Homo sapiens: one gene and its partners. The protein of the gene in region 2 binds, or shares a complex with, the protein of the main gene of each other region. Each region holds a gene or a part of one and is shown on either strand. Other genes may lie near its edges.

The links.
Region 1: DRC4 (region 2) and DRC7 share a complex: the UniProt entries of both Homo sapiens proteins name them as parts of the nexin-dynein regulatory complex.
Region 3: DRC4 (region 2) and DRC10 share a complex: the UniProt entries of both Homo sapiens proteins name them as parts of the nexin-dynein regulatory complex.

What each region holds. Positions count from the first base shown.
Region 1 is NC_000016.10:57,697,409-57,705,323, reverse strand, and holds part of DRC7 (dynein regulatory complex subunit 7), read right to left. Parts: intron 7,412-7,915; 5' UTR 7,375-7,411; coding exon 7,172-7,374; intron 6,475-7,171; coding exon 6,300-6,474; intron 5,180-6,299; coding exon 5,054-5,179; intron 3,389-5,053; coding exon 3,194-3,388; intron 882-3,193; exon of another isoform or gene 730-881; intron 449-729; coding exon 290-448; intron 1-289. UniProt on the Homo sapiens protein: Component of the nexin-dynein regulatory complex (N-DRC) a key regulator of ciliary/flagellar motility which maintains the alignment and integrity of the distal axoneme and regulates microtubule sliding in motile axonemes.
Region 2 is NC_000016.10:90,025,313-90,033,227, reverse strand, and holds part of DRC4 (dynein regulatory complex subunit 4), read right to left. Parts: intron 5,594-7,915; exon of another isoform or gene 5,593-5,593; coding exon 5,506-5,592; intron 4,330-5,505; exon of another isoform or gene 3,327-4,329; intron 2,053-3,326; exon of another isoform or gene 1,930-2,052; coding exon 1,732-1,929; intron 511-1,731; coding exon 304-510; intron 1-303. UniProt on the Homo sapiens protein: Component of the nexin-dynein regulatory complex (N-DRC), a key regulator of ciliary/flagellar motility which maintains the alignment and integrity of the distal axoneme and regulates microtubule sliding in motile axonemes.
Region 3 is NC_000012.12:113,210,577-113,218,491, forward strand, and holds part of DRC10 (dynein regulatory complex protein 10), read right to left. Parts: intron 1-7,915. UniProt on the Homo sapiens protein: Component of the nexin-dynein regulatory complex (N-DRC), a key regulator of ciliary/flagellar motility which maintains the alignment and integrity of the distal axoneme and regulates microtubule sliding in motile axonemes.

The DNA.
Region 1 (7,915 bases), about 32 Mb from region 2:
GGTATATCCCCAGTAAGAGTCTAGAGCAAAGAGGACACCAGAGCTGCCTAGCATAGAATGGGCTGCCCCAGGCAGTACAGTGCCCTGATGTTAGGAGTCCATCATGAGAAGCTGGCTGACCACCAGTGGGAGATTCCTGCAGGGCCAGGTAGAGGTTGGGGGTGATTGTGAGGTGGACCTAGTTGGGGGGTCCATACACACATCCCCTCCATGACCTATGCCTCTTTTCCCATCCCTAGCAGTCCTTTCTCGATAGCTGAGCCCAGGGGATTCAGGGCTGAGGACCCACCATGAGGCGCTCCTCCTCCTCCCTCAGCCGCTTCTTCTCCTGGGCTCTGATCTCCTGCTGCTTCTTCACCTCTTGCTCCTGCTCAAACCTGCTGCACAGGTCCCTGGGGGGTTTGATGGTATACTTCTTAGGCAGCACCTTTTCCTCCTTCTTGATGGTCTGTCACCCAAAAGAAGAGGAAGGGTCAGTGGCCCTGCATCCCCCCTTTACATGTGCAACTCCAAGAGGTGAGACCCGCCCAGCCAGTCCCTCAGACCGGGGGATGGCAGCTACTCCTGTAGCCTGTGGCCTTTCTGGCTCTAAATGCAGCTCCAGCTCCATGACCTTGGGAGGTCCTCTCACTTCTCTGAATCTCAGGTTCATGGTGTGAGAATAATAGGAACTTTCTCCCCAGCCTCTTTCTGAGAAGTAAAGACAGAAAAAATGCCCGAGGGAGGTACCTGTCAGGGCCAGGAGCTCAGGAGGTGTGGCTTTCTCCTCTTCAATCCTCACCACCCATCCTAGCCATGACCTGGGTCTGATCCAGAAGTGGGGAGAATTGTCAGGAGTTGGATTTTTCAGATCTTGTCATCGGAGGGCCTCATATGTTGACTTTAACAGTTTGCTGGGCCAGGAAGGAGAAGAAACCGTGTGTGTGTGTGTGTGTGTGTGTGTGTGTACGCTTGCGTGTCTACAAATGTGTGCTAAGTGGCAAGAAGTATTCCCAGGAAAGAGCACTGCAGAGGCTGCAGAGGTGGGCCTGTGATAGTCATGAAGGAGAAATAGTGAATCTCCAGCGTTTCAAGTTCCCTGAGTCTCCATTTTCCTGCTGTGTGACTTTGGCCACATTATGTTACCTTTTGATTTCATCAACATACTCATCTGTAACATAAAAGTGACAATATCTACCACACTGGGCCATCGTGGGGAGCAACAAGCACAATGGACATGAAAGCGGATTTTAAACCCGAAAGTTCTCTGCATCTGTTTGTTATTGATATAATGTTAATCATTAAGCTTTTGGCTGAGCTGAGAGCTGAGATGCCCGGGTGGGAGCTCAGAGGCTTTTTTTTTTTTTTTTTTTTTTTGGAGCCAGAGTATCCCTCTGTTGCCCAGGCTGGAGTGCAATGGTGCGATCTCAGCTCACTGCAACCTCCACCTTGCAGGTTCAAGCGATTCTCCTGGCTCAGCCTCCCGAGTAGCTGGGTTTACAGGCATGCACCACCACACCCAGCTAATTTTTATATTTTTAGTAGAGACGGGGTTTTGCCATGTTGGCCAGGCTGGTCTGGAACTCCTGCGCTCAAGTGGTCCACTTGCCTCAGCCTCCCAAAATGCTGAGATTACAGCCTCCCAAAATGAGCCACCGTGCCCAGCCAGAGGCTTTTGAAGCCAAAAGCCATGGCGGAGCTCGTGCTCCATCTTCTCTTGGGGAGGTGGGCCTGAGAGAGCAAGGCTCTTCTTGTGCTTCCCCTTCTGTCTCGCCCTTCTCCCACCAGAGCACCCACCCTGGGGTCCCTGGGTGCTCACCCAGGTATAACCCAGGTACACAGTGATCCTGCTGGATGCCTCAGGTCCCTGGATCCCCATCTCCAAGCTGCGGACACCCACAGGAGCCTGACCCTGATCCCAGAGTCCTGGAATTAATCCACCTCATGAAGAGCATTTTCTGTCTGTAGCATGACTATTTTCTAAATGTAAAGAGATGCATTTGTGATTCTGATATTCATTCCAGAGTATTTCTTGTGTCTGTAGCAGCCTGTGGTCCTTATGGAGATCTTAATGAGCAGATCTAAAAACACAGCCACCAGCCACTGAACAGTTGGTGATTTTTTTTTTTTTTTTTTTTTTTTTTGCTATTAAAAAGGGGCCTTGAGGGCCAGGCACGGTGGCTCAGGCCTATAATCCCAGCACTTTGGAAGGCTGAGGCGGGAGGATTGCTTGAGTCCAGGAGTTCACGACCAGCCTGGACAACATAGTGAGAACCTATAAAAAACAAACAAAATTAGCTGGCCGTGGTGGTACTCGCCTGTAGTCTCAGCTACTTGGGAGGCTGAGGCAGGAGGACGGCTTGAGTCCAGGAGGTTGAGGTTGCAGTGGGCCGAGATCATGCCACTGCACTCCAGCTTGAGTGACAGAGTGGAAGAGACCCTGTCTCAAAAAAAAAGCAGGCTTTTTACCTCGGGAGTGTGGGACTGAGAACCAAATGTCTGTTCACTTGTCTGTTATTTTTTATTTCTTTTATTTATTTTTTGAGATGGAGTCTTGCTCTGTCACCCAGGCTGGAGTGCAATGGCGCAATCTCAGTTCACTGCAGCCTTTGCCTCCCGGGTTTCAAGTGATTCTCCTGTCTCAGCCTCCTGAGTAACTGGGACTACAGGCACATGCCACCATGCGTGGCTAATTTTTTTGTATTTTTGATAGAGACAGGGTTTCGCCATGTTGGCCAGGCTGGTCTCGAACTCCTGACCTCAAGTGATTTGCTCGCCTTGGACTCCCAAAGTGCTGGGATTACAGGCATGAGCCACCGCACCTGGCCTATTTTCTTATATAAAAATGGCTGGCTGGATTTTTATCAAATGCATAGGGTAAATTTGGAATCGTTTGACTTAAGATATAAGCTATGTGGCATTCATAAAATTTACCAAGCAGGGAGCATAGTAGCTGAAAACTGAGTTACAACAGACAGAGAAGAACAGCCAGCTTGGAAAACTGGGCTGGATGTGTTAAGACACCGAGGACATAAATCACTGGTGGTTTGAAATATGAACTCCAGGGCAGCGGAAGGGCTGGTGGTGAGGGATCTGTGTCCGCGTGGCCAGGGCTGGGGATGAGGCGGCAGTGATGGACGTCTCTAAGGATGGCACGACAGCACCGGGAATGTTCATCCTTTGGGAAACCCGGGCAGCTCAAGCCCGACCATACCTCCTTGGGCTTCACAGTGAGTGGGCACACCTCCCGCGTCAGGTCCATGTGGCACAGGTCCAGCGAGCCGTAGCCGTTGACGCAGTAAGCATCATAGCCAGAGCCGATAAGCATGGAGCAGAGCAGCGTACTGAAGTCAAAGCAGTTCCCCTTCTGGTACTTGAGCACAGTGGTCGAGGAGTACAGGTGCGAGGGCTGGTCACAGTGGGACGGTCAGCACAGCTGGGGCCCCGCTGCCCCAGCCTGTCCTCCCCACCGGTCACAGCCCACCACCTGTCAGGGTGGGGAGCCAGGACCAATGCACAGGCTGGACCTGCTTTGGGCCCCTAACCCTTGTGGGGTCAGGGAGCCTGCTAAGAATGGAATGACAACCAGACACCATGCCATTCACATTTGCCTGTCATTTGAAGGGGCTATGGACTTCCTGATAGGGGGAAACCTTCTGGACTGTAGGAGTGTCTGATCTAATGCCCTCTGACTGGTAAGTTTACTGTTTTGCTCCAATGCTCCCCCTTCCTTCGATACCCACCTTTCCTCCTCCTCCCTTTATCAGTTCTCCACTGTTGACCTTGCCCTTTCTTCCTCCCTCCCTCTATTCTGAAGGAGAAGCTGACGAATTTGGTCAGAAGCCCAAAGATGGGGTTAGGGCCACGGGCAGCCGGGCCTCCCCTCTCTCTTTCCTGTACCGCTTGAAGCCATGGCAGGGAAGCTCTGAATGCAAAGGAGAAAAGAGGTGGGAACCAGAAGCCCAGGCTTGCTGTGTGTCCTCAGGCAAGTGGCTGTCTCTCTCTAGGCCTGTTTGCCCTTAGGGGCCCTGAGAGGCTGTACCCTGAGCCTGGCTGAGCTTCCTTTTCCCAGACCGTGCCTGACATCCCATTGAAGGAAATCATGTACACAGTGATCCGTTTCCAAGGCAAAGTGCCTTGAATAGGCTTAGGTCAGCAAACTACAAAAACCCCAGGATATACTAGGCCCCTGCTTGAATAGCCAATGCCTGTTTGTCAGCCTTCTCCTTCCTCCCCCTTACCTACCGCCTTAGTTGCCCTCACTCAAACCAAAAAAGTTTAGCCTAAGATAAAAGTTTACTAGTCTGCAAAATAGCTCGCTTTGTCTGTTCTTATCAGCCTGCCCAGCTACTCAGGTCATAAGTCAAATACTTAAAGAGCCCCTGAGCTAACTAGGATTGCAATGCATTGTGGGTTGCAATAAAATGCTGCAAAACAACCCTAGAAAAAACACCTAAAGCCCCTGCCTAACAATCAATAGGCGATGTCTGGGAAGATTGTGACCCCATAGTACTCAGCCTGTGAGGAACCAGGGGAGGGACCTGCGCACTAGGGGATAAACTGCTTGTTAAAACTATGCTGGGTGTGTCTGCCTATCAGACACCCAATCTTGCAAGACCATCATTAAAAGTCTCACTTTCGCTGTTCTCCAGGTCTCTAAGTCCATTCTTTTTTTTTTTTTTTTTTTTGAGAGAGTTTTTTGAGAGTTTTGCTCTTATCACTCAGGCTAGAGTGCAGTGGTGCCATCTTGGCTCACTGCAACTTCCGCTTCCCAGGTTCAAGCGATTCTCCTGCCTCAGCCTCCCCAGTAGCTAGGATTACAGGCATGTGCCACCACGCCCTGCTAATTTTTGTATTTTTAGTAGAGACGGGGTTTCGCCATGTTGGTCAGGCTGGTCTCAAACTCCTGACCTTGTGATCTGCCCGCCTTGGCCTCCCAAAATGCTGGGATTACAGGCATGAGCTACCACGCCCGGCCTCTAAGTCCATTCTTTGGGTTTGGATGGGTGAGTTTGTTTCTCACACCATCTTAGTCCTGGTGGGCTCAGGCATGCAGCCTGTGAGTGGTGCTTACCGGCTTGAGAGGGTCAGGCAGGGGCACCATGGTGAGGAAGTCGGAGACAAACTGGGCACAGCTGTCCCAGTTGTAGAGCTCGGGGTAGGGCATCAGTGTGGGCCGGAGGGTTGTGCTCACGAACTTCTGCAAGGAGAGAGATGGTGCCAGTGGGGTCAAGGCAATAAGAACTTGTGAGATCAAGCTTGGGGCCTTCCTTGAATCCACAGGGGGACCCTAGAGGCCTGAGCAAATGCAGGAGGCCAGGCCCACATGACCTGGGGTGGCAGAGCAGCCCTTGGCTGGGAAGGTGATGCCCAGATCTGGCACATGGCAGCCATCAGTGGCGCAGTGGCAATGACTGGGAGGCCCTTATCATGTTGCCAGCACCCGGAGACAGCACAAGCATATTCTGGATCTGGACTTTGAAGGGCTTTGAAGTTTTGCCGCCTTCAACCCCTAGGGCATTGTGGAGACACCTGAGGCCCAGAGCAGGCTTGAGAGCTGCCTGAGGTGACCCAGCAAGTCAGGGCTGAATGAGGAGATCAGGTCTGTTTCCTGGGGTTCCTGGGAGCACTGTGCTCTCCTCCCAGGAGCGATGCTCTCCCTGGGGCCTACAGAGGTTCTGGGCTGGGGCCAGCTGGCGACCAGTACAGTCTGAAGCCTCAGAGGTCAGCCTGTCCAGGGAAGGACAGAGAAATAAGACAAATTGGACCAGGACAGGCATAAGAACCTAAGCTCTGGCTTTTTCCTTCCAGCCCTGTGACCCAGAGCATGTCTCTGAGCCTTTCTGGGCCTCAGTTTCTCCATCTGTAGATGGAATGACATGGGATTCATCCAGGGGGTGGGAAACAGCTGCCCACGAGCTGACAGGGACCCACAGACCCGCTTTATTTGGCCCACGTGGCAATGTTTAGCATTTATGTCAGCTGCCAGCATTTAAAAACCAGAGACTCCCACACAAATCCCGAGTCTCCTCTTGATCAGGTAACCCCAGGCCTGCAGTTTCCCCGCAGCAATCAGCAGCTGCCTCTTTAGGCGGGGGCATGGGGTCTCCAGACCACCACCGCCCTCCAGGGTAATCTGCACTGAGCCTGCTGAGGCCTGCTGGCGTTCGACTTTATGTTGCCCCCAGACTAGAAGCGCTCTGGCCCACAGGAGGTCCGTGATTTGGCCCAGTGACCTTGGAGAACCTGCCCCACTTCCCTGTGCCCTCTGCTCTCCAGCCCCAGGCTCCCCAGCCCTGCCCTCAACATGCCAGCCTTACGGGCACTTCACACTCGTTCAGGGGGTGCAGGAAGAGGGGCACGCGGTCCGGGCACAGATGGCTGTACTGGCGGGAGAAGTTGTCTGCCACCTGCAGCAGGTGTTCCTCCTTGGGTGTGTTGGTTTTGTAGGAAATGGGCAGCTTGGAGATGTCAATAGTGTCCTTGGTAAAGGCCCTGTGCCACAACAGGGATGGCATTAGGGAAGCCATGCCTGGCACACAGGAGCCCTGGTTCCACTGAGTTGCCATTGGCTCTACCCCTTCCTCATTTAATCCTCACGGCTACTGAGAAGGCAGGTATCATTAACATCTGCACATTTTCATATATATATTTAAGAGACAGGTCTTGCTCTGTTGCCCAGGCTGGAGTGTGATAGCACAATCATAGCTCACTGCAGCCTTGAACTCCTGGGCTTAAGTGACCCTCCCACCTCAGCCTCCCAAGTAGCTGGGACTATAGGCACCACCACACCTGGCTAATTTTTGTATTTTTTGTAGACATGGGTGGGGGGGTCTTGCTATGTTGCCCGGGCTGGTCTCGAACTCCTGGCCTCAAGCGATCCTCCCACCTTTTCCTTCTAAAGTGCTGGGACTACAGATGTGAGACACAGCGCCTGGCCAGCACCTGCACTTTTAGACAGATAAAGGCACTGAGGCACCGAGAGGCTGAGTGACTTGCCCAAGGTCACACAGCTAGTTGGGAGAGCATGGACACTCGGCCCAGGCCATTTGAAAGCAGAAAGCCTTCACTCATAACTGCTTCCCTCTATCTCCTGGTCACCCTACCAGACCAGGCACCAGCACTCTGCCTGGGTCTCCCTGTGCCCAGCCCCGGTCTACCCTTGCCAGGGCCCCCACCCTGCCACACTCACGGGAGCTCCGCTGAGACAGTGATCTGGATCTCTGACAGCTTCTTCTCCAGGTCTCTGAGCGTCTCCTGCTTTAAGGTGATTTCCTCCTTCCGCACCTCAACTGGCCTCATCATTTTCTCCATCCTCGCCCATTCAGCCCACTCGGCCGCCTCCTCCCGCTCGGCCTCCTCCTCCTCCTCCACCTTCTCCCTCAGGACCTCCATTCTGGAGCGTCTCTGGGTGTCTGGAGATGGAATGTCTCTGTGGGGAAGGGTAAGTATACTCCATGGCCGACTGTCAGCCCAGGCAGGAGCCACCAACACCATCTGGGCATCCCCGGGAGGCCTGGGAGATGGTTTTGAGGAGGTGTCGAACACATAGGGAGTGATTCCCTCTTTGACTTCCTTTCAAACATGGAGAAAGTCTCTGTTTGGTGCTACCCCATCTGTAACACCTTTCTAATCCTGGCAAATATTCCTTTACAACAAAGACAAAGCAGGCCTCCGGTTGGAAGCCATCCTCAGGACAGGACAGGGAAAGGCACGTGTCGATTTGCTTTTAGTATATTTGACAGTTATCTTTTTTTTTAAATTTTTTATTTTTTTGAGACAGGGTCTTGCTCTGTCACTCAGGCTTGGAGTGCAGCAGCACGATCATGGCTCACCGCAGCTTCAAACTCCCAGGCTCAAGCAATCCTCCCACCTCAGCCTCCCCAGTAGCTGAGACCACAGGTGCACACCACCACACCTGGCTATTTTTTTTTTT
Region 2 (7,915 bases):
CCTAGGAAAAGTCTCTGGGTGTCAGGTGTCAGCAGCACATGAAAGATCCTAAGCTGGATTTTTTCTCTTCGGTGACGTCAATTTTTTGCTCAGGTCTGAGACAGAATTGTGTACTTGGTCCCAAAATGGGGTTTGTTTGGATGCATGCTTTAAAAAATTTTTTTTCAACAAATTGCAAAAATGCAGAAAGTCTTATGCAGAAATATGAATTCCCAGTTGCTGTTGAATAAACAGGAGTTCATGCAGCACTAGGCTTGCCGTCCCAACAACCTGTCAGCCTCCAGGTGCCCCCGCCACACCTACCAGCCGCAGGTTCTTCACCACCACCTCACTGGCCAGCTCCTGCTCCTTGAGCTCCACCTTCAGTGCCCGCATGTCCTTGCGCAGCACACTCTCCTGTATGCGGTGCTCTTTCTGTGCCAGCTTCATGACTACAGTGCCCTCAGCCTTCATCTCTGTCAGGTTGTTCTGGTGCTCATATAGCAGGTGCTTCACTTTCTGCTTGTACACCTGCAGGGCAATGGGAGTACCATCTGCTCACCTGCACCACACCTCCTCACCTTTCCGTACCTGTGCACACCTGGTCACCCATAGCACACCTGTACCACACCTCCTCACCTGTCCATACCTGTACACACCTGGTCACCTGTACCACACCTCCTTACCTGTCCATCCATACCTGTACACACCTGGTCACCCATACCACACCTGCACCACACCTCCTCACCTGTCCGTACCCGTACACACCTGGTCACCTGTACCACACCTCCTCACCTGTCCATACCTGTACACACCTGGTCACCCATACCACACCTGTACCACACCTCCTCACCTGTCCGTACCCGTACACACCTGGTCACCTGTACCACACCTCCTCACCTGTACATACCTGTACACTCCTGCTCACCCACACCACACCTGTACCACACCTCCTCACCTGTCCATACCTGTACACACCTGGTCACCTGTACCACACCTCCTCACTTGTACATTCCTGTATACACCTGATCACCTGCACCGTACCTGTAACACACCTCACCTGTACATACCTGTACCCCCCTGCTCACCTGCACCACACCTGTACCACACCTTCTCACCTGTCCATACCTGTACACACCTGGTCACCTGTACACCTCCTCACCTGTAAATTCCCGTACACACCTGGTCGCCTGCACTACACCTGTACTACACCTCCTCACCTGTACATACCTGTAGACACCTGGTCACTTGCACCTACCTGCTCACCTGCACATACCTGCCCCACGTGCTCACCTCCCCACACCTCACCTGCACATACCTCCTCACCTGGCCACGCCTCCTCACCTGCACACACATGCTCACTTGCATCCACCTGCTCACTTGCATGCCTCACCTTTACACAGCTACACATGCCTGTTCACCTATGCAAACCTGTACACTTGAGGCACAGAGCAGGACACCAAGGCTGGGAGGTGAGGTGCATCCCCAGCTCATGGGGTATTAAGTGGCAGAGCTGAGTTGCAAACAGGCCAGTCTGCCCCCAGAGCCCATATTCCTTCCATGTTGTGGAGGCAGCATTTTAAACCCTCAGGACCTGCAGGGTCTCTCCCTCAGGCTTTTATAAAAAACACCTTTAAGGCTGTGACTCCCAAAGCCAAGAACAGAAAATGTCCCACCTGCACCCTCACTGGATCCAGCTCCTCTGGGGCTCTGTGGTGACCAGGTTAGCACGTGCAGGCCGGCCCCACTCACCTTGATCTCCACCTGGTGCCTCTCCTCGGCTTCTTCCATCTCCCGGTCTTTGTTCCGCAGCTCAGCCTTCTTCTCCTCCAGCTGCCTCCGTGTGATCTCCCAGAAGGTGTGGATCTTGTCCCGCTCCAGCTGGAAGTAGTTTCGTTCCTCCCGCTCGCGGTCCAGCTCCTCCCGGATGCGGCTGACATGCTCCTCCACCTGGCCAGGTGCAGTGGGTCAGGTGAGGCACTGAGCAGGGGCCCATGCACGGCAACGGGGCGTGTGGCCGGCGAAAGGCAAGGAAGAAAGAGGGAGGACTCAACTTCACCTAAAAATAAACAGCTAAATGTAAAAAGTTAAAATATAAGGCTAGGAAGCTCCGGAGACAGAATGCATTCAGCAGGTGGCAGAATTCTCTTCAATTTGGCCAATAATCATAAAATAACTAGATCCTTTCATCCATTCCTGAGAATTGATGCCTAAAAAATTTCTCAAAAGAAATATAAGAGCATCTTGCTCAAAGATATTACCCACACCATTATTACAACAGCAAAAATATCAAAAAGGAAATAACCTAAGACCAGTTTAAACAGGGAAATAAGCGAGGCGCGGTGGCTCTCGCCTGCAACCCCAGCACTCTGGGAGGCTGAGGTTGAAGGATCCCTCGCGCCCAGGAGCTGAAGACCAGCTTGGGCAACATAGCAAGACCCCATCTCTGCAAAAACTTTTTTTCATTAACTAGGCATGATGGCACGCACCTATAGTCTCAGCTACTGGGAGAGCTGAGGTGGGAGGGTCACTCAAGCTCAGGGGGTTGAGGCTGCGGTTAGTTATGATCATGCCACTACACTCCAGCCTGGGTGACAGAGTGAGAATCTGTCTCAAAAAATACACAAACAGCCAGGCATGGTGGCTCCCACCACTTTGGGAGGATCTTTTGAGCCCCAGAGTTGAACAGCCTAGGCAACATGGCAAAACCCTGTCTCTACAAAAAAAAAAAAAAAAAAAAATTAGCCAGGAGTGGTGGCACATGCCTATAGTCCCAGCTACTCAGAAGACTGAGGTAGGAGGATCGTTTGGACCTGGGAGGTCAAGGCTGCCGTGAGCCGTGATCACACCACTGCACTCCACCTGGGTGACAGAGCAGGACCCTGTCTCTAAACAATAAATAAATAAATATGGAAATGGTTGAAAAATTAGAGTATATCAACTAGGAGAAATATCACATTAACCCAAAAAAAATATGCAAATGATGTAGCAGCATTTAAACAAATTCATATCATAATGCTAAATGAAAAAAAATTCACCTTTGAAGATATAATGTTAAGCAAAAAATATACAAAACCAGTAGACTCTAAAATCTCAAGAGGGTTCAATTGCGAATCTGCAAATAGGTTAAAAAAAAATGTAGGACAGGCTTCCAGCTTTCTCGGGAGCTCATTTCCCTTAAGAATCAGTTACTGCCAGGCGCGGTGGCTCACACCTGTAATCCCAGCACTTTGGGAGGCAGAGACAGGCAGATCATGAGGTCAGGAGATCAAGGCCATCCTGGCTAACACGGTGAAACCTCGTCTCTACTAAAAATACAAAAAAATTAGCCGGGCGTGATGGCAGGCACCTGCAGTCCCAGCTACTGGGCAGCCTGAAGCAGCAGGATGGTGTGAACCCAGGAGGTGGAGCTTGCAGTGAGCCGAGGTCGCGCCACCGCACTCCAGCCTGGGCCACACAGCGAGATTCCGTCAGAATCAGTTACTTTTCGGGCACAGCCCCAGGCCACTTACTGTGAGCCTTTTTCTTTCTCAACACCACATTCCCCACAGGGAAAACACATTTCTCACCTCAAAAGAAGACAAGACAACGAGCAAACAAGAAGGAGCAGCAGGAGGGGTTCTGAGCCGAGGATGCCGGGCAGACATGAGGGAGACACGCACCCCCGAATCCAACCAGTGCCTCGGCACAACGACAAATGTCTTCACGTCACAGACCTTTAGAGGCTCCTGGGCAGAGCCTGAACCAGGGCTCCTGACTGGTCTGTTTGGCTCACATGGTGTTGAGATTTTGCCATCACTCAATATTCAGATTTCTTATAAATATCCAGATTTCCAGCTTCTCTTGGAAAATCAGAAAAAAACAGCACTGAACTCCTAGGCCCACAAGGCACTCCCCAGTGAACAGATGAAACTGTCCTCTGCTGCGGGGCAGGAGTCTCCAGGTCACCCCCATCCCTCCCCACCTGCCTGGACCCTGAAGAAGCCTTCTGAGTCTGTGGCTCAACGTGCGATGTGCAGTGCAAGGGCCTGCCCCGTAGCCTGCCCCGTAGGCTGCCCCATAGCCTGCCCCGTAAGCTGCCCCGTAGCCTGCCCCGTAGGCTGCCCCGTAGGCTCCATGGCCACTGCCCCACAAGGCCTGTCTCCACAGGAATGGGAAGCGGACAGGGAGACGGGCAGCAGCTCACATGCTGGGACAACGCAGTGTTCAATCCATTCTCCATCCAGCAGCTCCAGACATCTTTCCAGAACACAAACCTGACCCCATCACCTCTCTGCTTAGCCACTGGCTTAAACTGCCAATGGTTTGCCTGCATGTAAAATAAAGCCATTCTTTACCATTGTTCAAGGACCTCTGCCTAGCTCCAACTTCAGGTCATGAGACTCTTTCAGTCTCCTTCGTATTGATTTTTTATCTTACAACTATCAAAAGAAGGTAAGATTTATTAACAATAACACAGAGTTGACACAGCCCTCATGTCCCATGTCAGGTGCTCACAGGCAGTCGTCCATGAGGGCAGAGGCCAGAGGGTGCACCGTGCTTGCCACACACTGCCGTCTCCAGGAGCCTTTTAGGTAAAATTGTAATTATGTAATTATGTTCTGTAGCCCTTAACTACATCCAAATGAAGAAGAGACTTAAACTAACTCCTACAAAGAAACTATAAAAACATCACCTCCTCCCCAAAATAAGCAACAAGAAAAAGGCAGCCCTGATGCTGTTACTCCTTGTTGGGACTTTTATCAAAAACAATGAATGACTGGCCAGGCGTGGTGGCTCATGCCTGTAATCCCAGCACTTTGGGAGGCCGAGGCGAGTGGATCACGAGGTCAGGAGATCGAGACCATCCTGGCTAACACGGTGAAACCCCGTCTCTACTAAAAATACAAAAAAAAAATTAGCCAGGCGTGGTGGCAGGTGCCTGTAGTCCCAGCTACTCGGGAGGCTGAGGCAGGAGAATGGTGTGAACCCGGGAGGTGGAGCTCACAGTGAGCCGAGATCGCGCCACTGCACTCCAGCCTGGGCGACAGAGTGAGACTCCGTCTCAAAAAAAAAAAAAAAAAAAAAAAAAAAAATGAACGATTAATCAGATTCAGATGTGATTTGAAGTAAATCATCCTTCTTTCAAAAACTTCCTTTTTGACATAATGTTTAATGGTGAATAAAATAAAGGAGAATGCTACATGTGTGTTCTACGATAAGTCTATACACATCAGGTGCAAAAAAAGGGTAAGATTGAAAGAGAATACACGAAATTAAAAACAGCTTTTAGATCAGAAAAGCATGTCCTTCCACACTCCTACCACCCTGTTACAAAGCTCTTTCACAGGCTGCACTACCTTTCTGAAAAGACATGGTGCAGCCGAAAGCTTTGCCGCTGATGGGAATTATGGGCCACGCGGGGGGCGTGTTCTGGCTTGGACAGAAGGGTGGATCCACATGGCAAGATGGACACTCGGCGTAGGCACCCTGCGTGGTGCCCGCCCACGCCCACCCGGGGACTGGGCCACAGCCCGCTCTGCTCACCTGCTCCTTGCTCATGTCCTCTGGAGCGAGCCCATCGACAATCGGGGTGCCTTTGGCTTTGCCTTTCTTCCCTTTCTTTTTCGGTGCCTTTGGTGGAAATAATGGGGTAAGAGAGACTCTAACAGCTTCCCCTTCTTGGCTGGCTCTGATTTGCTCCCAGGAACATTTGGCAGAGAAGGTTCTGGAACCTCTCTCCCTTCTGCTCACCTGGAGCACATCATTGCCCTGAGTGTTCCCACCCTTTACCACACACACATCCTGTTGTTGCATTTGGAGAAGCACAAAGGAGAAACCTTCCTTTTGAGAAGGAGAACATTCCTTCTAGAAAAGAGAGGAGCCGGGCGTGGTGGCTCACGCCTGTAATCCCAGCACTTTGGGAGGCCGAGGTGGACGGATCACGAGGTCAGGAGATCAAGACCATCCCGGCTAACACAGTGAAACCCCATCTCTACTAAAAATACAAAAAAAAATTAGCCGGGCGTGCCGGTGGGCGCCTGTAGTCCCAGCTACTCGGGAGGCTGAGGCAGGAGAATGGCTTGAACCTGGGGCATGGAGTTTGCAGTGAGCCGAGATCACACCACTGCACTCCAGCCAGGACGACAGAGTGAGACTCCATCTCAAAAAAAAAAAAAAGAGAGGAAACCTAGCCAGGTGTGCTGGTGTGTGCCTATAGTCCCAGTTACTCGGGAGGCTGAGGCAGAAGAATCGCTTGAACCCGGGAGGCAGAGGCTGCAGTGAGCCAAGATCCCACCATTGCACTCCAGCCTGGGCAACAAAGTGAGACTCCATCTCAAAAAGCAAACTGTAACTTAAAAAAAAAAAAAAAGAAAAGAGAGGGAACTCATTCCAAACCCACTCATTCCTTGGTATACGGTGACCAGGCGCAGTGGCTCACACGTGTCATCCCAGCACTTTGGGAGGCCAAGGCAGGACAATCACTTGAGCCTAGAAGTTTAAGGCTGCAGTGAGCTATGGTGCACCACCGCACTCCAGCCTGGGCAGTAGAACGAGACCCCGTCTCCAAAAACTAAGAGAGGGGGGAACCCATTCCAAACCCACTCACTCCTTGGTAAAAAGTAAAGACCTCTGCTGTGGATGCAAAACAGAGGAAAGACCCTCAATACCACACTGCCAAATGTTACCATGCTGGCGGCAACATTGGTGACCACCATGGAAAAGACCTGCAAGACACCATTCAGTAAGCTTAGGGAGAAATGCCTCCATAACCACGATCGGTTGTGACAACCACAAGTTTCCTTTCTTTCAAAGAGAAACTTCCTTCAGAGAAGCCTGGTCAAGAAAGCTTGGGCAGACAGCACCCACCACGAGAGCCCTGTAAATGGGCTGCCAGACGGAACTGCACATGGCGTCGTGCGTGGTTTTAGCAACTTTGACAAGGATGGGAGAGAACCTTCTAACCCCACCCCCTTGTGGAAGTTGCTGAAACCACGCATGACACCAGGAGCAGTTCTGTCTGGCCACCCATTTACAGGGCACTCAAGCAGGTAACAAATTTCCATATCCTATCCTGCTGACTTTGCTACTCCCAGTAGTCTTCAGCCCATGCTTTTCTGTGTCTACATGTCTCGGTAACCTTTTTTAAAGACAAAGTCTTGCTCTGTCGCCCAAGCTGGAGTGCAGTGGTGTGATCACATAGCTCACTGCAGACTCCAATTCCTGGGCTCAACTGATACTCCCACCTCAGCCTCCCAAGGAGCTGGGACCACAGGAGTTCACTGCTGCTGTGCCCAGCTATGTAACGTTTTTAAAATTACAAATTTCATGTGGAAATTTTATTTATTTTTTAAAAACATTAAAACCTAAATCCATTTATCTTTTTTTTTTTTTTTTTGAGATGGAGTCTCCCTCGTCATCCAGGCTGCCTTGGCTCACTGCAACCTCCACCTCTTGGGTTCAAACAATTCTCCTGCCTCAGCCTCCACGAGGAGCTGGGACTACAGGTGCCCGCCACCACGCCTGGCTAATTTTTTTTTGTATTTTAGTAGAGACGAGGTTTCACCATGTTGGCCAGGCTGGTCTTGAACTCTCTTTTTTTTTTTTTTTTTTTTTTTTGAGACAGAGTCTTGCTCTGTTGCCCAGGCTGGAGTGCAATGGTGCGATCTCAGCTCACTGCAACCTCCGCCTCCCGGATTCAAGCCATTCTCCTGCCTCAGCCTCCTGAGTAGCTGGGATTACAGGTGCCCACCACCACGTCCGGCTAATTTTTTGTATTTTTAGTAGAGACGGGGTTTCACTATGTTGGCCAGGCTGTACTCGAACTCCTGACCCGTGATCTGCCCACCTAAGCCTCCCAAAGTGCTGGGATTACAGGCGTGAGCCACCGCGACTGGCCCATTTATCTTCATTTATGTTTCATTTAGTCCTGAATGAAAACATTAGGTGGAGCCAG
Region 3 (7,915 bases), on a different chromosome or scaffold from region 2:
CATAGCAAGTCCCCATCTCTTAAAAAAGAAAAAAAGAAAAAAAAAAAAAAAAGAACACCTACTGCCCAGGATGTCTGCTCACCCCCCAACACCATGTCTCAGATGGACACCCCCCATAACATCCCCATCCCTCACCCTGATTCTTCTTCATCTCTTCCCCCTTATCCTGTTCGTTCTCCAGGTTAAGTATCACCATCTGACATCCCTATATGCACCTGTTTATTTGTTTATTGTCTGTCTTTCCCCCTCTCCTAAGAAGTAAGCACCAATGAAAGCTGTAAGTTACTACTTACAGGTTACCTGTGCCACTTTTATTTTCATATTGTCTGTAGATGTGAGAAATGTTTTGAAGAAAGAATCATTAGGACTTGAGTGAAAGAGTTTTGAGTTTGGGTGACTGGTAGAGAAAGATGGGGCCCTTAAGAAACTATGGCAGAAATTGGGAGAGGAGAGGACATTTGGAGGGGAGGACAATGAGCTCACTTTTAAACTCATTGAGCTCTAGCTGCCATACTGCAGTGGACAATGGTGTCTTGGCCTTCCCATTATCCAGGGAGTGCAGTGGCACGATCATGGCTCACTGCAACCTCGACTTCCTGGGCTCAAACAGTCCTCCTGCCTCATGCTCCCGAGTAGCTGATACTACAGGCACGTGCCACCATTCCCAGCTAATTATTGTATTTTTATTTTTGTAGATATAGGGTCTTGCTATGTTGCCCAGGAGAAGGAAGTGACACTTGAAGCCACAAAAGATAACTTCAACTCACCAAACCAAAGAACACACCAAGAGAATGGCAGGGAATCAAAGAAACACCCAAAGTGACTAAGAACGAAAAAGAAAGGCAGGCCAGATCAGGTGCTAAGGATGTTTAGTTCCTTGGCAAGGCAGAATGTATTCAATATCAGGCCAGGTATCATGGTTCACGCCCGTAATCCCAACACTTTGGGAGGCTGAGGCAGGAGGATTTGTTGAGCCCAGGAGTTTGAGGATGCAGTGAGCTATGATCAGGCCACTGCATTCCAGCCTGAGCAACAGAGTGAGATCTTGTCTCTTAAAAAAACAAAAAAACAAAAAACAAACCAGAAGCCCCTTTGGGAGCAGAGGATTGGGAATTATCTTCAATCACTTTGATTCACACACACTTCCTGCTCCCTAATGAATCTCATGAGATCCTTTGAGGCTTTTCCTGAAGACAAAGTTTTAGGAGGCTGGGCATGGTGGCTCACAGCTGCAATCCAAGCACTTTGGGAGGCCAAGGAGGGAAGATTCCTTGAGCCCAGGAGTTCAAGATCAGCATGGGCAACAAAATGAGACCTCTACAAAAAGTTAAAAAAAAAATTAGCCTGTCATGGTGGCAGGTGCCTGTAGTCCCCGCTATTTGGGGAGCTGAGGCAGGAGGATTGCTTGAGCCAGGGAGGTTGAGGCTACAGTGAGCCATGATCGCACCACTGCACTCCAGCCTGGGTGACAGAGCGAGATCCTATCTCTCCTCTTTTTTTTTTTTTTTTTTAAGCTGGAGTTTTGCTGTTGTCACCCAGGCTGGAGTGCAATGGTGTGATTTGGGCTCACTGCAACCTCTGCCTCCCAGGTACAAGCAGTCTCCTGTCTCAGCCTCCCAAGTAGCTGGGATTACAGGCGTGCACCACCACGCTAGCCTAATTTTGTATTTTTAATAGAGACAGGGTTTCATCATGTTGGCCAGTCTGGTCTCAAACTCCTGACCTCAGGTGATCTGCCCACCTTGGCCTCCCAAAGTGGTGGGATTACAGGCGTGAGCCACCATGCCCAGCCTAGATCCTATCTTGTAAGTGAAAAAAAAGTTTTAGGGACAGCCATGGAGATTTCTCAGGCTCTCTGAGGATGAAGGATCTTTGCCCATGGCTACAGGATGAATGTGAACAAGGTAGTTAATGAATGCAGTCCTCTCCATTGTACCCCAAAGCTCTCAGGCATAAATCAAAATGCCTGAATTCTTCAGAGAGTGCGGCTGGAAACGCAACGTTACATGAAATGTTTCCAATTTGCTTTCAGCCAAATTACCTCTTTTGCTTTAAAGGGCAAACTTGTTTTCTTTGATTATGATGACACCCATCATTTCTTGACAGCTCATTTGGGTGAACAAGATAAAGCCCGTGGAACTAGGATTGAGGGGAAATGCATCTGACTCTGACGACAAAAATGACTGGAGAATCTCTTTTCCTTGAATCCTAATATGATCATTTCATGTCCTTTTTAATGCCACCAACCTTAATATTTAAATCATTTCCAACTTAAGCATCTCCGTTTAAAATTCCTGCCCTGAGAGTGAAGCAAATTGTTAATGGATGGGAAACTTTAATTGGATATTCCCTTTATTTGTCATTAATTCTGCTGATGAACTTTATAAATGGAAATATATCTTTATCATGCAAATTATACCTCGTCTTCATTCAAACAGGCTTGTTGGATATTTTATTAATTTTGCTCTTAGAATATTTTGAGGAAAAAAAAGATTTGAACTAAATTATATATTTTTTCCCCCTGGAGAGAAGGAAAAAACCCAACACTTAACAACTACCCTACAAATCCAAACTGGCAAGTGGAAAAGTCAGAGGGTGCTAAAAAAAAAAAAAAAAAAAAAAAAAAAACCAAAACAACTGGAGTGTGGGAAATGGATTTCTCTCTCTCTTTTTAAATTCACTCTTAATTTAGGTTCGGGTTACATGTGCAGGTTTGTTATATAGGTAAATTTCATGTCATGGGGGTTTGGTGTACAGATTATTTCATCACCCAGGTAATAAGCATAGTACCTGATAGGTAGTTTTTCCATCCTCATCCGGATCTCATTTTAAGGAATACCATTTTAACATTAGCTAAGTAAGTTCTTGAGAACTTACTGTGTAGCAGACACTGTTCTGAATGCTATATACGAATTAATTCCTTTAATCCTTGCAACAACCCTATGAGGTAGGTGCTATTATTACCTCTATTTCACAGATGAAGAAAGGGAGACAGAGAGAGAGGTTAGATGATTCTAGTTAGTTTACAGCTAGGAAGTGACAGGGCCTGCACCCCATCAGCACTATTCTGTCCAGTCTCTTGATTTTAAGATTGACTTCTGGCCGGGCGCAGTGGCCCACGCCTGTAATGCCACCACTTTGGGAGGCTAAGGCAGGTTGATCACTTGAGGTCAGGAGTTTGAGACCAACCTGGCCAACATGGTGAAACCCTGTCCCTACTAAAAATACAAAAATTAGCTGGGCATGGTGGTGGGCACCTGTGGAGGCTGAGGCGGGAGAATTGCTTGAACCTGGGAGGTGGAGGTTGCAGTGAGCCGAGATTGCAGCACTGCACTCCAGCCTGGGTGACACAGTGAGACTCTGTCTCAAAAAAAACAAAAACAAAAAACAAAAAAACCAAGGTCTTGCTATGTTGCCCAGGCTGGTCTTGAACTCCTGGGCTCAAGAGGAATTTTCTTTTTAGCCTCAGAAAGATCTCACTACCCTCCAAACCTCTAGCTTTCTTCCGAACTCTGTATGTTTTATCTGAGGCTTTCAAGTCTAGGGAGGGGGAAAGTGAGGGGCTAGAAAGAAGCAACAGATTCATGATGAAACCTGCTATCCCAACCAACTACTATACAGTAGGTGCTCAATAAAGAAATCACTGTTGCGGTTGGGCTCAGTGGCTCACACCTGTAATTCCAGCACTGTGGGAGGCCGAGGCAGGTGGATCACCTGAGGTCAGGAGTTTGAGACCAGCCTGGGCAATATGGCGAAACATCTCTACTAAAAATACAAAAATTAGCCGGGTGTGGTGAAACATGCCTGTAATCCCAACTACTTGGGAGGCTGAGGCAGGAGAATCACTTGAACCAGGGAAATGGAAGTTGCAGTGAGCTGAGATCGCACCACTGCACACTCCAGCCTGGGTGACAGCGTGAGACTCCGTCTCAAAAAAAAAAAAAAAAAAAAAGAGAAAAAAAGAGAAAAGAAAAAGAAATCACTGTTGAATAAATGAGATGGCAAACCCAGATTTACCAACAGGCTTGTCTCCTCACTGGGAGATGCTGGCATAATAGGATAATGTTGTTTTGCAAAATATATATGTCCTGAATTGGAGCCAGAAAAGAGAGTCATATTTTCATGATAGAACTGTAGGCCAACAATTGGCCTATGAATTCTTTTGCATCCCTTTACTCAGGGCTTGGAATTTTTTAAACAAAAGTTTTAAATGTAATGAATTTTTTACTTTTTCATAGTTGAGTGGTTTTTTTTTTCTTTCTGTGACTAATTTTGAACTATTACCCAATCCTCCTCTCTTGTTCTTTTTGAGAACCTGTGTTTTATGGTTTACAACTGGTCTGTAAAAGATTCCCAGGCTAGGGCTGCAGCAATGAATGCTGGAGGTATTGACAGTTGGGACCCTGTTTGTAATGCTGGCTGGGTGGCTGCAGGCTCCAGGATTATCTGGTGCTTTGGAGACAGAGGACATGGGATAGTGACTCAGATTGGGAGGGAACATGCCCCCCGGGACAGATTTCTATGTTGCTGGTTATGATGAAATACTTTCCACTGACCACAAGCTATATAGCCTTGGGCAAGTCCACTTGATCTTCTGGGCTTTCATTTCCTCATTACTGAAGTGGAAACGAAAAACACATTTGGAATGCAATTCCAGTGTCTCACCACTTCCTGGCTGTGTGGCTTTGGGTAAGTCGATTAACCTCTCTAAGCCTTGACGTTCTACCTGTGAAATGGGACACAGCACTGTTGAGGGAATGAAATGAAATCCTTGCTCAAAAGTGTTACGCTTTTATGACTTTTAGTACTACTTCAAAAATTATGTTAATATCAACACTTTAATGTTTCTTAAAATAGATGTGCTTTTCCACAAAATAATATGGTATATGTTTTTGTATCAAAGGCTTTATAAAAAGTCAAAACAGAAGCAGTTTTTACTCCTTTTTACTATTTTGTTTTTAATTTTGCTGGTTTCTGCATTATTCATGTTCTCCTGTTAGTGACCGAAGAAGACCAAGTTCCCTTAAATCACTCCCCATTGTCCAGTCTCCCCTCCTTATCAATCAGTTCATCAGGAATTTTAATTCCTCTTTTGGTTACAGTGTCACTTTAGAAATGCTTATTTCTGGTTATATCTAAGTGTAGACAGCATCACTTTGGCAGTTTCAGACAGAAGGAAGAATTTCCTAGTAGTGAATTTAGATTATTCTATAATCAACTTCTCCAACTTGAAAAAAATATTTAACTACTACACACCTATTAGAATGGACAAAATCTAGAACACCGACAACTCCAAATGCTGGTGAGGATGTGAAGCAGAAACTCTGTCATTGCTGGTGGGAATGCAACATGGTGCGGCCACTTGGGAAGACAGTTGTTTTCTTACAAATTTAAACCTGCTCTTACTGTACGATCCAGTAATTGCACTCCTTGGTGTTTACCCAAAGGAGTTGAAAACTCATGTGCACACAAAAACCTGCACACACAAAAAGCTTATGGATATTTATAGCAGCTTCATTCACAACTGCCAAAATTTGGAAGCAACCAAGATGTCCTTCAGGAGCTGAGTAGATAAACAGTGGGGCATCCCGACAATGGAATACAGGATTATTCAGTGTTAAAAAGAAATGAGCTGTCAAGCCACGAAAAGACATGGAAGAAACTTAAATGCATATCACTAAGTGAAAGAAGCCAATCTGAAGAAGCTGCATATGGTATCACTCCAACTATATGACATTCTGGCAAAGGCAAAACTATGGAGATAGTAAAAAGATCAGTGTTGTCTAAGGGCTGGGGGAAGGGAGGGATGAATAGGCAGAACAGGGAGGATTTTTAGGGCAGTGAAAATACTATGTACCTTACTACAATGATGGATACCATCATTATACATTTGTCCAAATTCACAGAATGTACAACACCAAGCGTGAACCCTTATCCCTTATGTAAACTATGGAATTTGGATGCTGCTGCTGATGTGTCAATGTAGGTTCATCAACTGTAACAAATGCACCACTCTGGTGGGGGAGGTTGACGGTGGGGCAGGCTGTGCATGTGGGAATAGGGGGTATGTAGGAACTCTCTCTACCTTTCTCTCAATTTTGCTGTGAATCTAAAACTGCTTAAAAAATAAAATCTTAAGGTTGTAACCCTTTACTGGGCAGTGAAATCAGTTTGCCAACTGGGACTAGAGTTAAAATTAAACGAAACAGGGTTGGGTGCGGTGGCTCACTCCTGTAATCTTTGGGATTACAGGACTTTGGGAGCACTTTGGGAGGCCGAGGTGGGTGGATCACCTGAGGTCAAGAGTTCGAGACCAAGCCTGGCTATCATGGTGAAACCCAGTCTCTACTAAAAATACAGAAATTAGCAGCGCATGGTGTTGGGCACCTGTAATTCCAGCTACCTGGTAGGCTGAGGCAGGAGAATCGCTTGAACCCAAGAGGCGTAGGTTGCAGTGAGCTGAGATTGCACCACTGCACTCCAGCCTGGGCAACAGAGAAAGGCTCTGTCTCAAAAAAACAAAACAAAAAACAGCCTATCTCAAACCCGTCCTGCTCTCAGGCACTAATGTATAATGTTCCTTTTGTCAGAAACCAACCCCCCAGGAATAATTTCTCCCTAGATTAACAATTTCTCATTCTTTAGGTCTTAGCTCAATGGCTACCCCTCCTCAGACTGGAACAGACAGCACTTTACAACCTGTGGAAACTCTCTCACCTTTCCTGCATAGTACTAATCACACGTGTAATTTTTTTTTTTTTACAGCTCTATTGAGGTATAATTTACATTACCATAAAATTCACCCATTGTAAGTGTAAAACTCAGTGACTATTTTTGTAAATGTATCTGAAGTTGCCACATCACTACAATCCAGTTTTAGAACATTTCTATCACTCCCCCCAAATTCCCATGAGCTAATCTGCAAACAATCTCTGCTTCCACTCACATTTTTTGTTGTGGTTGTTTTGTTTTTGAAACTGAGTCTCGCTCTGTCGCCCAGGCTGGAGTGCAGTGGCGTAATCTCGGCTCACTGCAACCTCCACCCCCCTGGTTCAAGCAATTCTCGTGCCTCAGCCTCCCAAGTAGCTGGGATTACAGGTGCGTGTTACCACGCTTGGCTAATTTTTACGTTTTTAGGAGAGACAGGGTTTCAGCATGTTGCCCAGGCTGGTCTTGAACTCCCGGGCTCAAGTAATCCACCTTCCTTGGCCTCCCAAAGTGCTGGAATTGCAAGCGTGAGCCACTGCCCCTGGCCTCCACTCATATGTAACTTTCCTGGATAGTTCATATAAATGGGATCATGCAGTATGTAATTGTTTGCATCTGACTTTTTGCTTAGCACAGTGGTTTTCAACCTGGGGCAACTTTGCCCTCCAGAAGACATTTGGCAATAATCGGGAGATGCATTTGCTTGTCACAACTGAGAGAGGCTACTACTGGCATCTTGTAGGTAGAGGCTCGTAATATTGCTAAATATCCTACAATTGGCAGGATAGTTCCCCACAACAAAGAATTTTCTCACCCAAAACATCAATAGAGCTGAGGTTGAAAAACCCTGACCTTTTTTTTTTTTTTTTGAGATGGAGTTTTGCTCTCGTTTCCCAGGCTGGAGTGCCATGGCGTGATCTCGGCTCACTGCAACCTCTGCCTCCTGGGTTCAAGCGATTCTCCTGCCTCAGCCTCCCAAGTAGCTGGGATTACAGGCATGCGCCACCACGCGCAGCTAATTTTTTTTTTTTGTATTTTTAGTAGAGACGGGGTTTCTCCATGTTGGTCAGGCTGGTCTCAAATTCCCTACCTCAGGTGATCTGCCTGCCTTGGCCTCCCAAAGTGCTGGGATTTACAGGCGTGAGCCACCGTGCCCGGCTGCCTTTTTTTTTTAATAGACAGGGTCTTACTCTGTCACGCAGGCTAG